2 linked regions of the Homo sapiens genome follow. The protein of the gene in region 1 interacts with the protein of each later gene in a pairwise test. Each region holds a gene or a part of one and is shown on either strand. Other genes may lie near its edges. The genes, in order: ARHGAP12 and SHANK2.

Region 1 (12,048 bases):
TTTTTATATTTATTTATTTTTGAGACAGGGTCTTGCAACAGAAAAAAATCTGTTGCCAGGGCTGGAGAGCAATGGTGTGATCACTGCTCACAGCAGCCTCGACCTTCTGGGCTCAAGCGATCCTCCTACCTCAGCAACTCAGCCTCTCAAGTAGCCAGGACTACAGGCCCGTGCTACCACGCCCAGCTTTTTTTTTTTTTTTTTTTTTTTTTGAGACGGAGTCTAGCTGTGTTGCCCAGGCTGGAGTGCAGTGGTGCGATCTCAGCTCACTGCAACCTCCACCTCCTGGGTTCAAGCAATTCTCTTGCCTCAGCCTCCCAAGTAGCTGGGATTTTTTGTTTTGTTTTGTTTTGTTTTTTAAGTAGTAGAGATAAAGTCTCACTATGTTGTCCAGGCTGGTTTCAAACTCCTGAGCTCCAGCGATCTTCCCGCCTCAGACTCCCAAAGTGCTGGGATTACAGGTGTGAGTCACCACACCCTGCAAGAGCTATTCTAACGAGCTTTATACAATATTTTCTTGGTTTCTATTACTTATTCTTGAGACTAAGAGTGCTGCCTTTCCTTCTAGTATAGGGAAGGTGTCTTTTACATGGAAATTTCATCTTTTGCCTTTAAGAAACAGCATTAAGGCCAGAATAACTATAGAAATACTATGAAAACTAAAGTTTTGGCTGGTTCAGTGGCTCATGCCTGTAATCTCAGCACTTTGAGTTTGAGGCAGGTGGATCATCTGAGGCCAGAAGTTCAAGACCAGCCTGGCCAACACAGAGAAACCCTGTGTCTACTAAAAATACAAAAATTAGCCAGGTGTGGTGGTGCACGCCTGTAATCCCGACTACTTGAGAGGCTGAGACACGAGAATTGCTTGAATCTGGGAGGTGGAGGTTGCGGTGAGCCGAATTGCACCACTGCATTTCAGCTTACACGATGGAGAGAGACTCCTCCATCTCAAAAAAAAACCCTACAGTTTTAATAGTAACTATTAAGAATATATTTTCTTTTTTAAATTTTTTTTTGAGATGGAGTCTCACACTGTTGCCCTGGCTGGTGTGCAGTGGCGTGATCTCGGCTCACTGCAACCTCCGCCTCCCGGGTTCAAGCGATTCTCCTGCCTCAGCCTCCCAAATAGCTAGGATTACAGGGGCCCACCATCACACCTGGCTAATTTTTTGTATCTTTAGTAGAGACAGGGTTTCACTATGCTGGCTAGGCTGTTCTCGAACTCCTGACTTCGTGATCTGCCTGCCTTGGCCTCCCAAAGTGCTGGCATTACAGGCGTGAGCCACTGTGCCCGGCCAAGAATAGATTCTTATTAATCAGTATGCCAGAATAGTTGAGGAGTTTTGGAAAAAGAGAGTTTAGCATAGAGAAGGATAAAGGGGAGGAGGAGGAAGGGGATGGAAAGGTTTTGGGGAAGAATGAGTCCCAGGTAGCTTTGTGACAGTACTTTGCAGTGAGGCAATCTTTGAGTCTTGAATGTGAGTCTTTGAGCCTCAAGATACCAATTGAGATATCTGTCCTATTTGGACTGTATGATTTCATAGATGTGGCCCTTTACTTTAGTTTTAAGAAAAACGGACTTTTTTAATGATCCCTATAATGTTTGAACACGTCAGCTGGAGTCTCAGAAGGGGGAATTATTTTGGCATGCCTTTGAACTTTGAGAGCCCATTTGTAAATAAATTTAGCTGACTTGGTTTAATGACAAATACACAAAAACTTATATATATATATATATATATATATATATATATATATGAGATGGGGTCTCACTATGCTGCCCAGCTGGTCTTGAACTCCTGGGCTCAAATGATCGGCCTGCCTCAGCCTCCTAAAGTGCTGGGATTACGGGCATGAGCCATGGCGCCTGGCCACAAAAACCAATTTAAAATCCAAGTGTGCAAATGAATCAGAAAATAAAGTATGTACTCCCCAAGAGGGATAATAAGCCTTCTTTAACAAAAGAGAGAAAAAAATCCCTTTTAAACAGGAGTCCTCATAACCAGGAAGAAAAACGTATTCATCTTAACCAAGTCTATAGCAAGGAGGGAGAAAGTTCCCCTAAACAGAAGATTTCATAGCTGGTAGCGGGGAAGGATGCCTCCCAACCAATTCCCAAATAAAACTGAACTAAACCAAAAGAAAAAATATGAGTTCAAGCCAACAGAGACTCACCATGGGGAAAAGAGGTGGCTCGTAGAAGTTTGGGGGCTCAAGAGGCCTGAATTTGGGTACTTCATGCCACATTCCAGGTGCTAATTCTCCAAGGTGAGCCTGCTTTGGATCCCACTTCTGACTTCAAGTATGTAGAAATCAAAATAAAATATAGAGATGAATCTCTAAACATCTTATTTGGGAATCACAGAATTGGAATTTGGGATATATATATATATATATATATATATATATATATGCACATACAGGTGGTCTTTGGTATGCTCAAAGAACAAAAAGAAGGTTGGTAGTTTATTAGAAGGAGAAATGTTATGTTTTGTTTTAAAAGAAAGCTCACTGCTACTGGAGAAGCTTTGGGGAGCTGGCAAACTCTGATTGCTGAAGACAGCAGTAGGTAACACTAGTCTATGAGTCACAGTAGGTCATTTCAGCAGCTACTAGGTAAAACTATTCTTATGGTTACAGCAGGCTGTTTTAGCAGCTGGGCTTGCAGAAAATTTAATTTTTGGAGCTGGTGCTATGTGCCCTGAGTGATTTTTCCCCCCACTCCTGGACTCTTTGAGTTAGTTGGGTATGACAAGAATGTCCTAATTTGTATAATCAACTATTACAAGTACTAATTATTATTATTATTTTTTGAAACAGGGTCTCCCTCTGTTACCCAGGCTGGAGTGCAATGGCACCATCTTGGCTCACTGCAACCTCTGCCTCTCGGGTTCAAGCAATCCTCCTGCCTCAGCCTCCTGAGTAGCTGGGACTACAGGCGTGCACCACTATGTCCAGCTAATTTTTTGTATTTTTAGTACAGATGGGGTTTCACCATGTTGGCCAGACTGGTCTTGAACTCCTGACCTCAGGTGACCCACTTGCCTAAGCCTCCCAAAGTGCTGGGATTGCAGGTGTGAGTCACCACACCTGACCACAAGTACTAATATTTGTCTTTAATAATAGTTAAAACTGATCATATGAATTTATATAGTGAAAGCAGTGAGATTTCACAAGAAAATATTAATAAATCTCCTAAAACCCTTAAAGATGTGTTATGCAAATCTGACTGCTATTGTACTCATTATTCTCTTTGAGATTTCTGGAAATTAAGCCCACAAATAAATATAATCAAATACTGAAACATATCAGACAAAATCATTTACAGGGCATCTGTGTAACCCATGGAAACAAGAAGCAGTTGATATTACAAAATGGGTGAGTGAACAGATACACGAGAAACATATGCCTTTAGCGTTTTTCCCAAAATATATTTTGTTGACCTTAATTAACAGACAAATGATCCATGAAATTCTAATTTTATTGTTTAAAATGGAGGATCCAATTTGTTAAAACTTGTTCAAGGAAGGCTCTACTAAACTTGAAGAAAAATAGAGTACTTCTGAAAATTTATATACATTTGATAAAATGTATACTAAGCCTCAAAATAAATGTACCTGGATTTTAAATTATTACGGTAAGAAACAGACATCATTCAATCTGAACAAAAACTCTGAGGTTTTCAAAAGTTTGCCTATGAGCACTAGCTTACCTGATTTTATTTATTTATTTATTTATTTATTTATTTGAGACATGGTCTCACTCTGTTACTCAGGCTGGAGTGCAGTGTCACAATCTTGACTAACTGCAACCTCCACCTCCTGGGTTGAAGTGATCCTCCTACTTCAGCCTCTGGAGTAGCTGAGACCACAGGCACACACCACCATGCCTGGCTATTTTTTTTTTTTTGTATTTTCATTAGAGATGGGGTCTTGCCATGTTGCCCAGGTTGGTCTTGAATTCCTGAGCTCAAGCAATCTGCCCGCCTCAGCCTCCCAAAGTGCTGGGATTATAGGCATGAGCCACTGCACCCAGCCTCCTTGATATGTTTATTTTACTCAGGTAAACTTTTATAAAACAGAAGAAGCCTGAATGTTTTAATAACAACAACAACAACAAAAAGATGCCAGAAAAATTTTAAACATTTTCACTATTTGAATAGATAAAACATTCTGAAATTTTGAATATCAAAAAGTTTAAATATGAATACAATGAAGTCTATTTCTTATGCTTTCCATCTACTGTGTTCTCATACCTCATGTTACTTTGTCCTAGTTTAATGCATATACAATTTAATACAATATTCTGTACCGTATTTCTGTGTTTTTCACTTAACAAAAAAATCTTGGAGATCTTAATGTTAAAACAAAGAACTTTCTGTTTTTTTGATTAACAGCTGCACAATGTTCAAACATATGGCTCTATCATAATTTAACTAGTATCCTGTTGATAGATACTTAGCTTGTTTCCAATCTTTTGCTATTCTCAACAATAAGAAACACCTTGTTATTTCTTATGTGTGGAAACATCTGTGGCATAAATCCCTGGAAATGAAATTCAAGGCTCCGAGTATATATGCATTTGTAATTTTAATACATACTGCCAAATTCCTGTTTCTTTATAGCCCAGCCAAAGTAGTGATGCCAGATATAATTTTGTTTTTTCATTTAAAAATATATAATGAAAAGTAGGTTACTTATTAAAGAACTAGGAAGAAAGTAGGACAAGTTTATGCAAAGTACAGACTACATTTTCACCTAAAAATACATTTAACAGGAATCTATTGTGCATCTACCGTATGCCAAGTGCTTTTAGGCACTTGGGATATACACACAAACAAATCAGACTCAAATCTCTGCCTGTGTGTGGAGCTTATATTTCAGTTCTACATTTTGGAACTCTCTGCTACTTCATAAGAAGCCAGTTAAATGTCAAAATCCTGAAAATGATCTGTTGAAATCCTGAGCACAGGCGCCAGACATATGCTACAAGTGTTATTTAAAAACTAACTAGAGGCAGTGTTACATATGATCATAGCTCTCCATCAGGTTCTTTTAAAACAACACACTAGCGAGAAAGCTCTTTTTATCCGCCTCCATCTGCTGTTGGTGGTGATCAGCATACTGTGGGCATTGTGGTATCATCCGAGATTAGGCTGTGAAATAGGAAGTGGGGTTACAGGCAGATCCGCAAGTGTATGCAAACTGTTGAGTTCTATCTCTTGCTAAAACCAAGGGTGCCCAATTCAGGTTTGGAGAGTAGGGAAAGTAAGGTTATCAGCGCATTCCTATCAGGGTCGTTTTCTTTTTTGCACTGCTCTTGTTCTGGTTTTATAAGGAGAACACAAGCAGAGTCTATGGAAAATAGTTGCCAAAGCATACAGGAAATACTCCTTATACTGAACAAATGCAAGAAAACAGAACGGGTTAGAAACCGAGGGAGACAAAAAGGCAGTGGGTGCCAAGGACTGTGAAAAGCAAATGCAACGATAGAGACAGCACAGTCTCAGGCTTATTTTTCAAAAATTCTCATTGTAAGCCTCTTTCCTTTCTAAATGGAGACTATCTTAACACTTTAGCTCGCATTAGACTTAATTTAATAAGAAGGTTGTAAACCACAGCTGTTAAAGTCTTGCCACTGCCCTACCGGATTCTTCGCATCCTGTAAGGCACAATTCGGAGTTCAGCTGGTTGATAAGGAAGCCAGGCATTGTGGCATCTTCAAGTACGAAGTGAAGCACAGGAAAGAGCCAACTCCGGAGAGTAGCTCTTCATTGCTTGAATCATACATATGCTTGTTTTTTCCCCCCTCTCCTTTCTGGTCTCTATTATTAACAAATATTTCATCCTGGCACAACAGGCACAATCAACAACTGGTTAAGGAATGAGTAGTTACTGAAGTCCCAACGCCTCTCAGTTATTTTTCTCACACTCACTGTATTCTAGACCTAGAAGCCAGCTCTCATTTGAAAGCTGAGGTTCAGAAGGGTGAAGTGCCAATAAATGGCAGAAGCCAGGTCTCTTTCCTGATTCCCATTCCAGCTGAGCTCCTCCTGCCACTGGATCACCATCAAAGACCTGCCAAAGCTGTTACTTCCGGGTTCGGTGCTGCCACAGTGCAAACGGGGATGACTTTGGACAATGACCCTGTGGCCCCCGCAGGGCTCGCACCCTCAGGCCCGTGGAAGGCTAAATGCTGACGGACTGGTTCTGCCCTGGAGCGGCTCTCCGCGTCCCAGGGGTCTCCTCAGTCCCGAGTGTGCACAGCGGGTCCTGCCACGTACCCTGGCGACCCCAGCAATGGACTCAGTGCCCCGGGTCCCTTTCCGTCTCCCTCAGGCGGCGTGCAGCACTTTTTCGGGTGTCCCAGTGGAATTTCCGGGCCCGTGAACGACTGACCCACGCCCGGCCGCAGCTCCAGGGGCCGACGAAGGGAGCGCTAGGGCCCACGGCAGGGCCGTCTTTGCCCGGGCTCCATTCCTGCCACCCTGGCGCTATGTCCGCCCTTCCCTGGTTTTCCCTACGAGCGTTTTTTTAACGCTTCCCACTCCTTGTTTACAAAGTGCTGAGCCCCCTTGACCGCAGGCTCCCGCGCCGGCCCGAGTTCCCACACCGTACGCTGGCTGCCCCCTATTCGGATCCCCGCCGGGCGCCGCACCCCCTAGCCACCCCAGACCGTCCCGGAGACCCGCGCCCGCCCAGCTCGCCCGGGCCATCACGTGAGCCTCCCGCCCCGCCCCCGCGCGTCACGTGAGCCCCGCCCCCGCGCCGGCGCGCTCCGACGTGCCCTGTAACTTACCCTCCCTCAGAGGCCAGCCTGCGGGGACGGGCCGGCCGCGGCCGTAGCCGTGTGAACGCTCTTCGGGCTCGCGTCGTCGACCCGCAGCCGCGGGGCGGACTAAGAAGGGAGCCGCCTGCTGCGAGGCCGCCGGGCTCCCGGTGAGGTGCAGGGCGCGGGTCCTGGCGGACGGAGGGCAGGTTGGCGAGGCGCTGCACAAAGGCGCGCCGGGGCCGGGCTGTGCCCGCCGAGGGCGGTGGAGTCGGGGGGAGGCGTGTGCGGGAGGCGCGGCGGCGGCGGCGGCGGCGCCGCGGAGGTGCGCGCAAAGGGAGGTCGGGCGCGCAGCGAGGGGCTCTGGGCGCGGGGGTTAGGCGCCGAGGGGGAGGGGGCCGGCGCAGCCTATTGGCTGACGTGGGCGAGAGGGTTTAAATGGCCCGAAGTTGTGGCTTCTCTGCCCCCTGGGTTTCCTGACTTCCTGTGTGAGGGCAGCGCCCGCCCGCCCCGCCCCCAGGGAGGAGAGTGTGAGGGTGCGCGGGTGTGTGTGTGAGTGCGGGAGAGTGCGCGCGTGTGTGCACAAGGCGGGTGTGTGCGTGTCTATGTGCAAAAGGCGGGTGTGTGCGCGCGCGTGTGTCTGCAAAAGGCGGGTGTGTGTGTGTGTGTGTGTGTGTGCGCAAAAGGCCGGCCCGGCCCCTCCCGCGCCCTGGGCCCACTCCCTAATCGCGGTGGGGCTTGCAGGCCTCCACCCACCCGGGGAGCCCACCCGGGGAATCCACCTGGGGCGTCCCTCGAGGACTGTTGACCTTAAACCGGACACTTTCTTCTTTGCGGTCTTTCCCGGTGCCCTGCCCCTGCTGGATGGACGTGCATTCGCTCCCCTCCAGCTTATCTGGGCGGAATCTCCTCAAAGTCCTTGAATTGAAAAATCCTCTTTACCAGCGTGCAGCCCGCCTCCCATCTCAGGGGAGCTGGTTGTCTTCTCAGAACGGCTGTCCTTTACGCGTTGCTATCTTAAGTGACTGCAGACCCTTTGAGAAGAAATGGCCACACGGTCTTCGTTAGAGAAAAAGGCACGCCCTTCAGCTTTCGAGGCGTGTGATGTTTTCCTTTTGACTGCAGCTGCAGTTTTGTAAATGTATTTTCAAAGGCTAAAGCACGACGTTGAAAGTACACCTTTATCGAAAGTTTTAATGTCATCCCAAGTGGAGTGTTTGTTGTGGATAGAGGCTTTTAGCACTCTAATAACACGATTGGTTGTGGCTGGCTTTTGGGTTAATCATGACATTGAGAAGTAGATTTTATCGACTATTTAGGCATGCGTTCCTAAAGGGAGGTGGTGGAGGAAGGAAGGCTCACTCGGGTTCTGATTCAGGTTCTGCCACCCGACTTCTAGAGGTTAGACCTTGGGAGACTCCGGGTGTTTCAATGGAAGTGTTAAAAATAAGTATCTAGCCCCTAGCCACGCCTCTTTCATACTTAAAAGTCGGGAACGATGGCCTAGATGTGTGTGTACTTGCCCATATCGCCTTTTCTTTATCTGTAGGAGGGTGTTTTACAGAATCGGTCATCTTCCTCTACCTCCTCTGGTCTGAATAGGCATTTTGGCTATTTTTATTTTGCCTTGGAAACGTTTCAGAGCTGGGTTTTGAGAGCCCAAAGCAGGCAGTGAAAGCGTGACCCCCACCCATGCCACCTGACGAGCCAGACCGTCTGCGCACATATGTGCGACCCCTGGTTGCATGCGGCTCCACTGTTCTAAAAGTGTTTCTCTGTGGGGGAAAAAGAAACCCCAGAAGTGTAATATAATGTGTGTATGTATATTTATGCGCCAATATTTGTTGATAGATTTCTGTTCGTACTTCATCAAGCTGGAGAAGACTGATGACTCATTGATTGTTAAGATAATGCCGTCTGTATAGTTAGTTATATATATATTAGTTGTTCATATATAATTATCAATACATTGCATCTCTTTCGGTTTTATATTTGCTAATACCAGTTGTTTCGAGGTGCAAATGAAAATAGATTAAGTGCTGTAGAAAAACAGCATGTTACTTGTAGTTAATCATTTGACTTTTCTTTAATTAGAAAGAATCTGCTCAGTGGTTTTTTAGTAGGCTGATAGAAAGTGAACTTTACAAATTTTTAAGTACTCTACGTAAGTGATATTACTGAAAATAATACGGGTGATTAAAATTTTTAAATGGAGTAAAAACTAAATAGTGGTGATCTGTTTAACCATTAAACAGTAGTACTAATATTTTACTTACCTGAGAAAATGGGCATCACAGTTTTACAATAAATCATGGGAGAGAAAAGTGAAATTAAACTTTTGTCCTGTATTTAACAATTTTGGCTAGAATTGCAAATATGCACTATTTTGTAGTATGAATCAGATGTGAAAGGTGTCGTAGTACGACATAGCATCACTGTACTTCAAATCGGGCTTTTCAGATTACCTCTTTTGAGGAACCTATTGGGCCACTATCCTTGTGGTTTTTTTTTTTTTTCTTCAGTTAGCTGGCCCCGGCTCATTGGTATATGGCTTTGCTGTGATTCAGCCATTTCCCTATTACTTTCATTGACTTCATGGACTTAATGAATATTCTGCAGTTTCGTTTTGTAATTGATTAGCTCTTTAATTGAACTGAACTGCCAAATGGTGTAGTCTCTAAGCCTCCTTCCCCTGTTGATAATCTAGTGCTTCTCAAATTTTAACGTGCATAGGAATCACCTGCACTTCTAATATCCACTTGGTCATATGGATGCTGTTCTGCCAGACCACAGACCACTGCTGTCCAATAGAAATGTAATGCCTATATAAATTACTTGTGCTTAAAGTTTCTAGTATTCACATTATAAAAAGTAAGCACGTGGAAAAAAAGTGAAATAAATGAATATATTTTACTTAGTATATTCACAATATCATTTTAACATGTAATAGGAAAATTATTAATGAGATATTTTATGTTCTTTACATTGGACCAGGTTTTTTGAAATATCAAGTGTGTTTTACACTTAGAGCATTTCTCAATTTGCATTAGGCACATTTGACTAGTGACTGCTGTATCGAACAACAGTTTTGGAGTCTAAAAGTGTAGACCAATGTTACTCTTAGTGTATTTTCAGATTGGCCTCATCAGCAATCCTTGAGAATGTAAATTTTAGGGCCCCACCTCATACCGGTTGTTGTTAGAATATCTAGGGCTAGAGCCTGTAATCTGTGGTTTGAAAACGCTCTGGGATATGGCTATACAATGTATATGTGGTATTCTGGATGGGACCCTGGAACAGAAAAAGGACATTAGGAGAATACTAAGGAAATCTGAATGAAGTGTGGAAATTGTTATGTGTCAGTGTTGGTTGATTGAATATGACAAATGTACCATACTAACATAAGTTGTTAATAGGGATAACTGGGTCCAGAGTACATGGGAACTCTGTGGACTATCTTTGCAGTAATTATGTAAATCTAAAACTCTTTTAAAATAAGAAGTTTATTTTTAGAAAAGTTCTTCAGATTATTCCATTGCTCACTAAAAGTTTGAGAATCCAGTGATCTAGATTATTAATCACTTGTACTGCTACAGCTTGTTTGGGCAGGATGGTGGCCAGTATTGGGTCTGGTAGGATGATGATAATAGTTTTTTTGTAGTAAGACCTAAAACTTTTAAAGCACTTGCCATGCTCCATGCACTATTTCAAGTGCCTTACACACATTTACTTAATTCTCCCAGTATGCAGTATGTACTACTAATAAGCTGCACTTTGCAGATGGAAAAAACTGAAGCCCAGAGAGGTTAAATGACTTGTCCAGAGTCACACAGCGAGAGACAGAGACAGGATGTTTTATAAATTATCAGTGCGTTTGTGACTATTTTTCTACTCTCACAACTTTTGCTTCCTTGAGTAAGCACTGATTAATGTAGATACTCTGTGACGTCTGAAAGTTACAAAGTTTTTTTTCTTTCTTCTCACAAACATCTTTTGAGGTTTGTATTGTTTGCTTTGTTTTACAGGCAAGTTAAGGTGCCTAGGGTCCTGAGAGCTGATAAATGGTAAAGCCTAGATTTAAAATTTAGACCTCTGACTCCAAGTTCTGTGCTCTTTTCCTTCCCCACAGCAGAATTCAGAATATGTTATGAGGTTAGAGTGACATCTTTTAAAGTTGGCTGAAAATTTCCTATATTTTGCTACATAATATATATTTTTAAATTTCAGTTTTATTAAAGTGTAATGTACATACATAAAATAAACTAACATTCAACAATAAAAAAGAATGATCTATGGAGACAACATGAGTGAATCTCAAAAGCATTAATCTAAGTGAAACATGTCAGACACAGAAGGCTACATACTATATGATTTGTATTTCTCTATTACAGCTTTTGCTTCCTTGAGTAAGCAGTGATTAATGTGATACCATCTATCATGCTTTATATCTAAGTGCTTTTTTTCGTGTTTTCTCTTTCCGTTCTTACAAGGATCTTTTGAGGTTTGTACTGTTTCCTATTTTAGAGATGGATTGTACCACAGTTTGTATTCACAAGTTCATAGGCCTTTGAGTTTTCAATTTCTGGCCATTATGAATGTTCATGTAAGGCCTTTGTGTGGACTTATGTTTTCATTTCTCTTGGGTAAATACCTAGAAGAGGGATTGCTGGATCATGTAGTAAGCGTATGTTTAACTTTATTAGAAATTACCAAATTATTTTCCGCAGTGGTTGTACCATTTTGCATTTCCACCAGCAATGAAGAGAATTCCAGTTGCTGGTATCTTTACCATACAAAACATTCTGTGTTTTTGAAAGCCATCCAGTAGGTGAGTAGTGATACCTGGTTGTTTTAATTTGCATCATTAGGGTTTTAACAGTTTTTTTAAAAAAATACAGTTTTGAGGTATAATTGCTGTATAACAAGCTGCACATATTTTTTAAGTGTACAATTTGAAGAGTTTTGACATATGTATATACCTGTGAAGCCACTACCATTTTCAAGATAATGAACATTTCTTTCACCCATCAAAAATTTCCTTGAGCTCCTATGTGATTCATTCCCCATGTCCCTTGGCAACTATTGCTCTGCTTTCTGTCACTATCAATTAGTTTGATTCTAGGAAATCAATTTTCTAGAATTTTATGCAGATGGACTCGTGTACTATGGATTCTGGTCTGGATTTTTCTTCACTCAAGAAAATTATTTTGAGATTCACCCAGTTTGCTGTGTGTATCAACAGTTCGTTCCTTTTTATTGCTGAGTGATATTCCATTGTGT
Region 2 (11,296 bases), on another chromosome or scaffold:
GTGGCATCCCTTCTGGGTCATGTTCATGGAGGTACATGCTGCTGCACCCCGCTCAGGCCTCACGCTCCACTGGGGTCAGAGGAGGGGCCCGGGCCAGCACTGTCAGGAAGCAGGTCCCAGGGTATCCCCACCCCGCAGTGCCCTGGCTCACCACAGCTATGGGACATAACTCCCTGGTGCAGGAGACACATCTCAACCCCCGTTTCATTGGAGAAAAATACTCTGGGGGCCACCAGCGGCCACATCTCACTTGAGGCAAAGAACAGCCACTGCCTAGCGCCCCCATTTCCAGGGATAGACCAAGCTGGAGTTGCACATCACAGCCGGCCAGAGGAGATCACCCAAGCATCACCTGGTCCCAAGTCAAGGGGGAGAAGCCCAGCTGATCGGCGAGGCCAGGGAACAGAGGCCGGCACAGAAACCAATTCGACCCCAGCCATCCAAGGAGTCCCAGCCCAGCCCTGGGAGGGGAAAGGCTCCTTGGAGGAAGCAAATTGCTGGGACCATGGCAGGTGGACCCAGCCCGTGCAGCCCAGGGAGGTTGACAGGGACCCCAGCAAAGGGAATGTGAGATGAGGCAGCCATGCAGCACCTGCTGCAGCCGGAGGAGCTGGGATGAGGGCCTTGAACGCAGGTGAGGACAGCACGGCTCTGGACTGGGGTCACAGGTCACAGCCAGGATGTCCCCACTGCCAAGTGAGATGAGAATCGGGTGTTTCCTACCGTGCCTGACCAGTTCCCTGAGAAGCAGATGCTTAGCATCCACTGGGGGAATGACAAGGTCCCCAAGGAGGCATCAGGCTCATCGAAGAGCCAGCAGGGCTTGTGGGTCCAGGAATAACAGGAGAGAATGCATGAGCAGGGACGCAGAATTGGGGCCCAGTGAGCCTGCAGGCCTGGTCAGCTGGACTTGGTCATGAAGGGAGAGAGTGCTGTGGGGGGAGATTTGGCTGCCCGGACACTATGGGGCAAGGGCTTTCTTGCTTTGCGTGAACACTTGGCATTTTGCTGACAACTGGAAACGTGGTCCAGGCCAGGGGTCGGCAAACACCTCCCTGAAGGGCCCCATGGTAAGTGTGCTGGGCGTGACAGCCATATGGCCTCTGCTGCACATTCTCCTGCCTTTTCTTCCCCATCCTTGTTTGAAGACTAAAAGTGTATGGCTGGGTGTGGTGGCTCACACCTGTAATCCCAGCACTTTGGGAGGCCAAGGCGGGCACATCACTTGAGGTCAGGAGTCTGAGACCAGCCTGGCCAACATGGTGAAACCCCGTCTCTACTAAAAATACAAAAATTAGCCGGGCATGGTGGTGCTCGCCTGTAATCCCAGCTACTCAGGAGGCTGAGGCACGAGAATTGCTTGAACCCAGGAGGTGGAGGTTGCAGTGAGCCAAGCAGCCCAGGTGACAGTGAGAGTCCATCTTAAAGAAAAGAAAAAAAAGTATAGACTGCCCTGAGGTTCTGGCCCGGTGGGGGCAGGACTGGCCCAAGGGTCTGGAACACAGGCCTGGAACCAGGCCCCTCATGCAGACTCTACTGTGAGAGTGTCCATAGGTGTCAGAGTTGTGTACGTCTCAGCTGCTCTGCAAGGTTGAGGGGCCATCACAGGGCGCCTGGCTCAGTGTCCCCAGCACACCCCCATTTCCTCTCCCCAAACTTCCTCTTGTGGGGACCTCTGGTCTGGGCTGCCTTTGTCAGGAGCCTGATGCCTTTGTGTTGGACAACCCTGATCCGTGCCGTGGCTCTGGGAGCTTTGCCCGTGGGTCAGCTCCCCGTGAGAAGCTGCCATGACAGGTAACTTCCGCCTCAGCTTGAAGAACAATTTGGAGATGGGGGCCTTCCTCCCTGCACTCTGCTCAGCTCTAACTTGCACAATAGCCTCATGGCTCAAAGTCTGGGCAAGGCCCTAGCATACACTTCATGGGAGCCACCAGACCCCAAGAGTGGGCTTAGGGTGGCCAGAAGGCAGAATGTTCCAGATGGCCTGCTTCTCCCCAGGGAGTAAGGCCAGTGCTGTCTCAAAGGCTCAGAATGGGGTACACCCACCAGATACCACACTGGCTTTGTCCCAACCCAGTGACATCTTAGAAGTACAGCTGGGGTCACCTTTTCCAGAATGCACATCGCGACTGGAAGACCAGCTCTCCAGGTCTCAGTGGCACAGGGCCCTTGCATTTAAACAGCCTTAGACACACCCTTATGCCTGATCCCAAACACCCTGAGATGAAGCTAAGGCGTCAGGAGAGCTCTGGGATGTGCTTCAGTTTTCAAGTAAAAAAAAAAAAAAAAATGTGCTGCAAATGTCCTCTTTAAAAAACTTTTGTTAATTGCTAAGGATCCCTTATAACTAAACTTTGGTTTTCTTTTTTTTTTTTTTTTTTAAAGGAAATGGGAAGGTTCTGCATTGGGGAAAATAAACAGAGACCTTCCCTCTGCAACACTTACTAACGCCTGGGGCCACGAGCACCCTGGCCTCTGAAACACCCACGCTGCCTTGGGTGGCAGATCCTCATGTCTTGGCAATCACAGTTACAAAGGAACCATATGTCTGAGTCTCTTCAAAAAAAAAAACAAAAACAAACAAAAAAAAAAACTTCAAAAAGTCAGTTTAGTTAACCCTCACAAGAATAAATCCCATTAGAAAGAATCAAGTGATTCCACTAAAGAAATGGCCCAAATGGCTGTAATCCCAGCACTTTGGGAGGCCAAGGCCGGTGGATCACTTGAGGCCAGGAGTTCAAGATCAGCCTGGCCAACATGGTGAAACTCCGTCTCTACTAAAAATACAAAAATTAGCTGGGCGTAGTGGCAGGTGCCTGTAATCCCAGCTACTCTTGAGGCTGACGCAAGAGAATTGCTTAAACCTGGGAGGCGGAGGTTGCAGTGAGCCAAGATTGCACCACTGCACTCCAGCCTGGGCAACAGAGCAAGAGACTGTCTCAAAAAAAAAAAAAAAAAAAAAAAAAACACAGAAATGTCCCAAAAAACAGAAATGTCCCAAAAAGCTTCAGAGCCCTTGGGGGCTGGGCACTTAAGAAGGTGGCCGAGCTGTGGAGGGTCTTCTATGTCCATGCCTCGTGCATGCCTCCGAGGGCAAGGTCCTGGGAAGGAGCCCATGCCCCAGTGGGAATGCATGTGGCAGAGGCACACGCATGCTCCTCACAGCAGCAACAAATGCCCCCTGCACAGTTTTGGATGTTGGAGTGGCTGCTGCACCTGTGCGCTTTCCTATCTACACCCAGCTTCCCCCACTGGTGTTGCTGCTCCAATCCTCACGGTTCTATTGCAGATAAACCCGAGGAGATAGTCCCGGCCTCCAAGCCCTCCCGCGCTGCTGAGAACATGGCTGTGGAACCGAGGGTGGCGACCATCAAGCAGCGGCCCAGCAGCCGGTGCTTCCCGGCGGGCTCAGACATGAACGTGAGTGGCCGTACCTTGGGACCACGAGGGCGGGGGCCGACGGTGCCCAGGAAGTGGGTGGGCTGTCTCAGTAGCTGAGGTGCACACGCTTTCATGTCTGGTTCGTGCTGTCCAGAGGTGGGGCCCAAATCTAAGTGGCCACAGGACAAAGAGCCGGGTCTGTGCAGACTCACAGTGGTGGGACAGAGCAGGCTGCATCCAAGCCCTGCCCTTACCGCTCACTCAGTGCCCTGAGCCTCGAAGGTGTCCTGTCATACTTGGCTGAGGACCCGTGAGCACATGGAAGTAAGGGGCCTTGACACACTCTTCAGACAGAGGGGCTCTTGCCTCCTGGTCCACCCAGAGCACAGAAATGCTCCGGTGTGGAAGAGGCCGTCTGTCCCACATCCCATGTGGCAGTCCCCCACACTCTCCGAGATCCTGGGCAACACTTGTCCTCGGAGCCAGAAGTGCCATGAAGGGCTTCAGTGGCTGCTGGGCGCAGTGGGTGCCTGGCTCAGAGCAGGCTGCCCGTGCCATGGTCACCTTCCCTAGGCAGTCAGGAGGGCACACAGCTGGAAAAGGGCCTGGGGCAGAGGCTGCTGATTCCCCCAGGCACGTCCTGAACAAGGCGTGGCCTCCTGGACCCTTGGATTGCTTCTCCATTGTGCAGAGGCAGCCATCTGAACCTGATGTCAGATTCTAGCACTGCCTACCTGTCCTGATTGCTTACCTTAGTATTCTCTTTGAACCAGTATCAAACTGCCTATGTCTAGCTTTTTCTTGAACAATAACACCTATAAATATTATAAATTTACCACAAGGCTTTTCTGTAATGTGCATTAAACAACTGTTAATAATTACAGTTACAATATCTGCCCTCACACCTCCTCCCATCACCTCTGAACTCCACAAGGGGACTTCCCCTCCAGGCCCTGCCTGCCGGTCCTTGCCTCCCACTTTGTTCCCAGTCCTTCGTGGCACCCACATGCCCCACCAAGTTGGGGGGGTGTCTGAGACAAGGTGCCCTTGATCTCCCAAAGGGTCCCACTTTGCTCCTCAGCCTCAGGGCCATAGAGTGAGACAAACAGAGGCTGTGGACACATGGAAACTGCATCTCAAAGCTGGAGCAATAAAAGCTTGCACACGAATATTTCCATTGAGCGTCCGCATCTGATATTTTCCCGGGTTGGCCTTCAACACTACAGGTTTGGGGCCCTGAGCCATCTCAGTTTTGCAGACAAAACAACAGCCTGGGGAAGCGAAAGAGTTGGCAGCACCAGGACTCTGCTTCCAAGGTGGAGGGGAGGAGGGGAGCTCTAGGCTCCTCCTGGGACAGGCTGAAGAGGGAGGAAGCTGGGGACAGCTCACTGCTGCAGACTCCAGGCTGTGCCCCTGAGCAGCTCCAGGGCTTGCTTAAGCTAGCTGGCACATCATGCTCACCCACACACCACCACAATACCTGGTTGGCCTTTGCACACACTGTGGGGCTGGTGTCAGGAGCCCATTTTATGAAAGAGGAGATGGTGGCTCCTATGTAAGGACTTGATGGTCACATGGCACATGGGGAGTGGGGTATGGACCCAGGCCAGACCCCACTGCCCACCACGCTGTGCCCTTTCCCACAGGACATCCAGCCTGGCCCCCCTCTCAGAGAGACGTATCTGTCCAGCTGCTCTGGCAAATGGTGTTGCAGCAGACCACATCTCCATGGAACAGGGCATGCTGCCATCCTAACAGGGCCAAAGGCCAATAGCAGCTGCAGCGAATAGGAAAGGCACCTAGAGAGGGACCTTCCTGGGTCCTCAATGCTGTGGTTCTCATCAGCCCCACTGGAGACTTTAGGTGGCTCCAGAAGCAGCTTGGGGAAGCCACAGTGACGGAAGTTCCCTTGTGGTCTCTGGGCCCTGTGACCGTGGGTGGGGGCTGGCCAGGGCTGCGTCTCACCCTAGGCTCTCTGGTTTGCAGTCTGTGTACGAACGCCAAGGAATCGCCGTGATGACGCCCACTGTTCCTGGGAGCCCAAAAGCCCCGTTTCTGGGCATCCCTCGAGGTACGATGCGAAGGCAGAAATCAATAGGTAAGAAGTGTGGCACTCCCCCACAGAAGTTGCCCCTGGGCTTTCAAACACAGCCTTAGGCCCCTCAGGAATTCTGAGCCCTGGGCCTCTCACAGTTGCCTTGGCGTCCCACCCCAGCAAGGCCCTGCCAGCCCACCCACCAGAGGGTGGGAACCTGGCCTTGCCCACTAGGGAGCCATTGGAACATCTGAGTGGCATGAAACTCATCCCCCCTGAAGGACACAAAATCTAGGGTGGCTTCTGTCATCTTGAAGCCCAGTTATCTGTGATAATTCCAGCAGGGTAAAGCGGGAGGGTGGGCGGGGTGGTGCGAGCCAACCCCCCTCCCCCACCCTGCCCTGCTCAGGGTGGGAAGGGTAAGTGGGTTCCCTGCATTCCCCAGCCACCACCAGGCCTGGAGTATGAGCTCAGCAGATGTACTTCCAAGGGTGGTTGGGTCAGGTCTCGAAATGAAATAATGTACTGTGTGTTGCAGAAAACTGCCTTCCTTTCTTCTTAATGTCACAATTATTCCTATTGACCCTGTTGCAGGCAAAGGTACACTTGACCTTGAGACAAGGTCACACTTGACCCTTTGAGACAGTCCCTTTGTGAGATAATTCAGCATTGCCTTTACTGTGTCAATTCTGGTAGAAGCTAAGGCCCTTGCCCTGTGAGAGTTGTGGAGGCAACCCTGGGACTCTGGTCTGCCCAGCCCACCCCAGGGGCACTGTCCTGTGTGTTCTGGAAATGCCTCTGGGCTGCTGTGCAAAAGCGCAGCGTGCTTGTGAGTCTCAGGTGGATAACTGTAGGCAGTCACTAGGCAGTAAGTGGCCGTGGAGGTGGTGTCTGCTGTGCTTAAAGCTCCCCCTGCACCAGCAAACTCAGGGAAAGCTGCGTATTTGTCTTGCGGTTACTGGTTAATAACAACTGATTTCCTCCTGTCAGACAGCAGAATCTTTCTATCAGGTTAGTGAACCTTACGGTTTGGAATCTGTAATCTGAATGTAACCCAGTTTACTTTATAAGGTGTATTCTTAAATTAGTACTCCTTGGGAACAGAATTGCCAGACAGCCAACTCAGAGTGACTGGTCAATGGAGAACACTTTGAACGAGCCATCTTTGCAATGCCAAAATGTCCTCCCACAAGGAGTATGTTAAATTTGGAATACCCTTATCGAATGGAAGTTTTCATTGGAATAAATTATTGTAGTTTGTCCTAGGACTTTTTTTCATTTCAAGTAATTTATTTTGCTACCTCTTTGAAAACCTGCATGCTCCCAACATGAAATCCCTGTGCCACGCGTCTGTCGGTGTGTGTGCGTGTCTCGCTTCCCTTCTCCAAGTGCTCCTGTTGACGTGTCTGTGTCTTCAGCTGTTGAACAGTCTGTAAAGTCACACCTAGGCAACACACCCAGAGAACCCTCAGGCCACCCTGCTGGCTGTCGTAGGACCTCAGCTGCATCCCCACACATTCAACATCCACATATTTTCATTAGGTCAACTCATACTTTGTGCCAGGTCAGCCACACTTGGACCCTGGTTAGTTGCGATTATGGTGGTCCACTGGGCTCTCAGCCCCTGCTCCAAAGGGTCTTGGCAGGACCACTTTCAGGGCTGCCGCTGGGACCCAGAAGGGGCTCACTGAGGCCTGGCTCAGGATCCTATTCCTGGCTCAGTCCAGGACTTTAAAGGAACCTGGGCTCCCTCCCCTCAGGGGCAGGCTCTAGAGCCCACATGGCCCCTCCTCTGAGCTGCAATTCCCCAGCCATCCATCTCTCTGAAGGTCCAGAGAGCTCGAGGACACATAGAACCCTTAGTGGGGCCCAGTGAAGTCAGGCAATGAAAGGATTCACATGACCCTGGAAGAAAAGCACCTCCTCCCAGCACGCACAGAGCCAACCGTGGGCAGATGGCTTCGCTCAGGGTGGCAGAGGCCTCCCTGTACATCTGGGCAGCCGTGGGGCTCAAGTGCCATCTGGACGGTGGACTGCACACCATCCTTGCCACATAAACACAGCAATACCTGCAACCCTTTGCTCTCATTTCAGATGCACAGGTGACAGCCTTAGACCCCTGCCCTAAAAACACCCCCAGGAGCCCTTACCATGCCTGAAGGGGCATGGTGGAAGGATACCTCCTGGTCTAGCCAACCCCGCCCCAAGCACAATGCCACAATGCCAGCACAAGCACACGTAAGCGCACACACACACGCACAAGCAGCCCCAAGGCGAGCTGCCCACTTGGCCTGCAGACTGGCACACGGCTCAGCGTCAGGGGCCCTCCTGCCCTGGCCTCACACAGCTCCCCTGCTGCAGCCTGTGCCTGGAGGCCCCACAGCAGCAGCGTACTCACAGCATCCCCAGTGCCTTTCTGTTCTTCCCTTTCTTGTCCTTTGGCTCACGACGGGCCATGTGACTAACCACTCGGCATCGTGGCTTGTGCTGTGTTTCCTGAACATCCGGTTCATCATCTGAATTTGTGAGTTTGTGGAGATGTAGCGTATCGCACGTTCCTAGGAACTTAGGCTTTGTTGCTATTGTGACTTAAAGCTAAACCTGTTTTCTGCTTGTAGGAATAACAGAGGAAGAGCGGCAGTTTCTGGCTCCTCCAATGCTGAAGTTCACCAGAAGCCTGTCCATGCCGGACACCTCTGAGGACATCCCCCCTCCACCGCAGTCTGTGCCCCCGTCCCCACCACCACCTTCCCCAACCACTTACAACTGCCCCAAGTCCCCAACTCCAAGAGTCTACGGGACGATTAAGCCTGCGTTCAATCAGAATTCTGCCGCCAAGGTGTCCCCCGCCACCAGGTCCGACACCGTGGCCACCATGATGAGGGAGAAGGGGATGTACTTCAGGAGAGAGCTGGACCGCTACTCCTTGGACTCTGAAGACCTCTACAGTCGGAATGCCGGCCCGCAAGCCAACTTCCGCAACAAGAGAGGCCAGATGCCAGAAAACCCATACTCAGAGGTGGGGAAGATCGCCAGCAAAGCCGTCTACGTCCCCGCCAAGCCCGCCAGGCGGAAGGGGATGCTGGTGAAGCAGTCCAACGTGGAGGACAGCCCCGAGAAGACGTGCTCCATCCCTATCCCGACCATCATCGTGAAGGAGCCGTCCACCAGCAGCAGCGGCAAGAGCAGCCAGGGCAGCAGCATGGAGATCGACCCCCAGGCCCCGGAGCCACCGAGCCAGCTGCGGCCTGACGAAAGCCTGACCGTCAGCAGCCCCTTTGCCGCCGCCATCGCCGGAGCCGTCCGCGACCGTGAGAAGCGGCTGGAAGCCAGGAGGAACTCCCCGGCCTTCCTCTCCACAGACCTGGGGGATGAGGATGTGGGCCTGGGGCCACCCGCCCCCAGGACGCGGCCCTCCATGTTCCCCGAGGAGGGGGATTTTGCTGACGAGGACAGCGCTGAGCAGCTGTCATCCCCCATGCCGAGTGCCACGCCCAGGGAGCCCGAAAACCATTTCGTGGGTGGCGCCGAGGCCAGTGCTCCGGGTGAGGCTGGGAGGCCGCTGAATTCCACGTCCAAAGCCCAGGGGCCCGAGAGCAGCCCAGCAGTGCCCTCCGCGAGCAGCGGCACAGCCGGCCCCGGGAATTATGTCCACCCACTCACAGGGCGGCTGCTTGATCCCAGCTCCCCGCTGGCCCTGGCACTCTCCGCAAGGGACCGAGCCATGAAGGAGTCTCAACAGGGACCCAAAGGGGAGGCCCCCAAGGCCGACCTCAACAAACCTCTTTACATTGATACCAAAATGCGGCCCAGCCTGGATGCCGGCTTCCCTACGGTCACCAGGCAGAACACCCGGGGACCCCTGAGGCGGCAGGAGACGGAGAACAAGTACGAGACCGACCTGGGCCGAGACCGGAAAGGCGATGACAAGAAGAACATGCTGATCGACATCATGGACACGTCCCAGCAGAAGTCGGCTGGCCTGCTGATGGTGCACACCGTGGACGCCACTAAGCTGGACAACGCCCTGCAGGAAGAGGACGAGAAGGCAGAGGTGGAGATGAAGCCAGACAGCTCGCCGTCCGAGGTGCCAGAAGGTGTTTCCGAAACCGAAGGTGCTTTACAGATCTCCGCTGCCCCCGAGCCCACCACCGTGCCCGGCAGAACCATCGTCGCGGTGGGCTCCATGGAAGAGGCGGTGATTTTGCCATTCCGCATCCCTCCTCCCCCTCTGGCATCCGTGGACTTGGATGAGGATTTTATTTTTACAGAGCCATTGCCTCCTCCCCTGGAATTTGCAAATAGTTTTGATATCCCCGATGACCGGGCAGCTTCTGTCCCGGCTCTCTCAGACTTAGTGAAGCAGAAGAAAAGCGACACCCCTCAGTCCCCTTCGTTGAACTCCAGCCAACCAACCAACTCTGCAGACAGCAAGAAGCCAGCCAGTCTTTCAAACTGTCTGCCTGCCTCATTCCTGCCACCCCCTGAAAGCTTTGACGCCGTCGCCGACTCTGGGATCGAGGAGGTGGACAGCCGGAGTAGCAGCGACCACCACCTCGAGACGACCAGCACTATCTCCACCGTGTCTAGCATCTCCACCCTGTCTTCCGAAGGTGGAGAGAATGTGGACACCTGCACAGTCTATGCAGATGGGCAAGCATTTATGGTTGACAAACCCCCAGTACCTCCTAAGCCAAAAATGAAGCCCATCATTCACAAAAGCAATGCACTTTATCAAGACGCGCTCGTGGAAGAAGATGTAGATAGCTTTGTTATCCCCCCGCCCGCTCCCCCGCCCCCGCCGGGCAGTGCCCAGCCTGGGATGGCCAAGGTTCTCCAGCCAAGGACCTCCAAGTTGTGGGGCGACGTCACAGAGATCAAAAGCCCGATTCTCTCAGGCCCAAAGGCAAACGTTATTAGTGAATTGAACTCTATCCTACAGCAAATGAACCGAGAGAAATTGGCAAAGCCGGGGGAAGGACTGGATTCACCAATGGGAGCCAAGTCCGCCAGCCTCGCTCCAAGGTAAGTCCGCGGTTGGTGCACATGCACACCGCTCTGCGTGCACTGTCCCTGCTGACCAGGAAAGGCCCTCGGGTAGCAGCCCCAGCGGACACGAAGAGGGGAATTCGTAAAGCCTGTGTGGGCCACGTCTGTTAATGCAGTAACACTTCTTTTTCTCATGCTCCTGGACTCCGGGATAGCCGAGTAATGATCACAGCCATCCTGGTGGGACACAGCACTCCTTCATAAAGACTTGTAATGAAATGAGGTTGCTGGAAGCCCTCCTCACCTTGGCTTCCAAAGAGAAGCTCTACTCTCTCTTCTGTGCCCTCCAGATCTCTGCCAGGACCACCTAGAAGGCCGTTTAGAGCCTCGCCAAAGCCCAAACCAAGCTTCGAGTTGGTTGCAGGAGACTAGCTGCCCCAAGAGGGCAGCGAGTGGGTGGGCGGTGGGTGCAGGTGTCTGAATACACGTGTGGGTTCTTCTTCCCCTCCCATCACTACCAGGTTTGCGGGCTTGGGAGGCACAGGGTCATGGCTGTACTGGTGAACTCTAAGTGCAGTACATTCTTCCCTGCCAGCCCATCCTGTCCCAGGGGCAGAAGCCTCTAGCTGTGTCCATGTCAGCCCTTCACAGTATTGTGCAGGGTTTACATTATTTCCATTGGAACTGAACGTAGAATAAGTCAGGAGTCATTTCTAGACGCAACCAGAGGGCTCTATCTGAGGCTGTCTGGAAGGAGCCTATATTTGATCATTCTTGCACTGCTATAAAGAAATAGCTGAGACTGGGTAATTTATAAAAAAATGAGGTTTAATTGGCTCGAGTTCTGCAGGCTATATGGGAAGCATGATGTTGGCTTCTGCTTGGCTTCTG

What was found.
Region 2: the proteins of ARHGAP12 (region 1) and SHANK2 interact in binary tests that used the Homo sapiens proteins (3 or more experiments, as listed by UniProt).

Annotation. Positions count from the first base shown.
Region 1 is NC_000010.11:31,923,573-31,935,620, reverse strand, and holds the start of ARHGAP12 (rho GTPase-activating protein 12), read left to right. Parts: upstream 1-6,789; 5' UTR 6,790-6,938; exon of another isoform or gene 6,939-6,959; intron 6,960-7,577; exon of another isoform or gene 7,578-12,048. UniProt on the Homo sapiens protein: GTPase activator for the Rho-type GTPases by converting them to an inactive GDP-bound state.
Region 2 is NC_000011.10:70,484,459-70,495,754, reverse strand, and holds part of SHANK2 (SH3 and multiple ankyrin repeat domains protein 2), read left to right. Parts: intron 1-3,289; coding exon 3,290-3,420; intron 3,421-5,367; coding exon 5,368-5,479; intron 5,480-6,406; coding exon 6,407-6,427; intron 6,428-8,034; coding exon 8,035-10,441; intron 10,442-11,296. UniProt on the Homo sapiens protein: Seems to be an adapter protein in the postsynaptic density (PSD) of excitatory synapses that interconnects receptors of the postsynaptic membrane including NMDA-type and metabotropic glutamate receptors, and the actin-based cytoskeleton.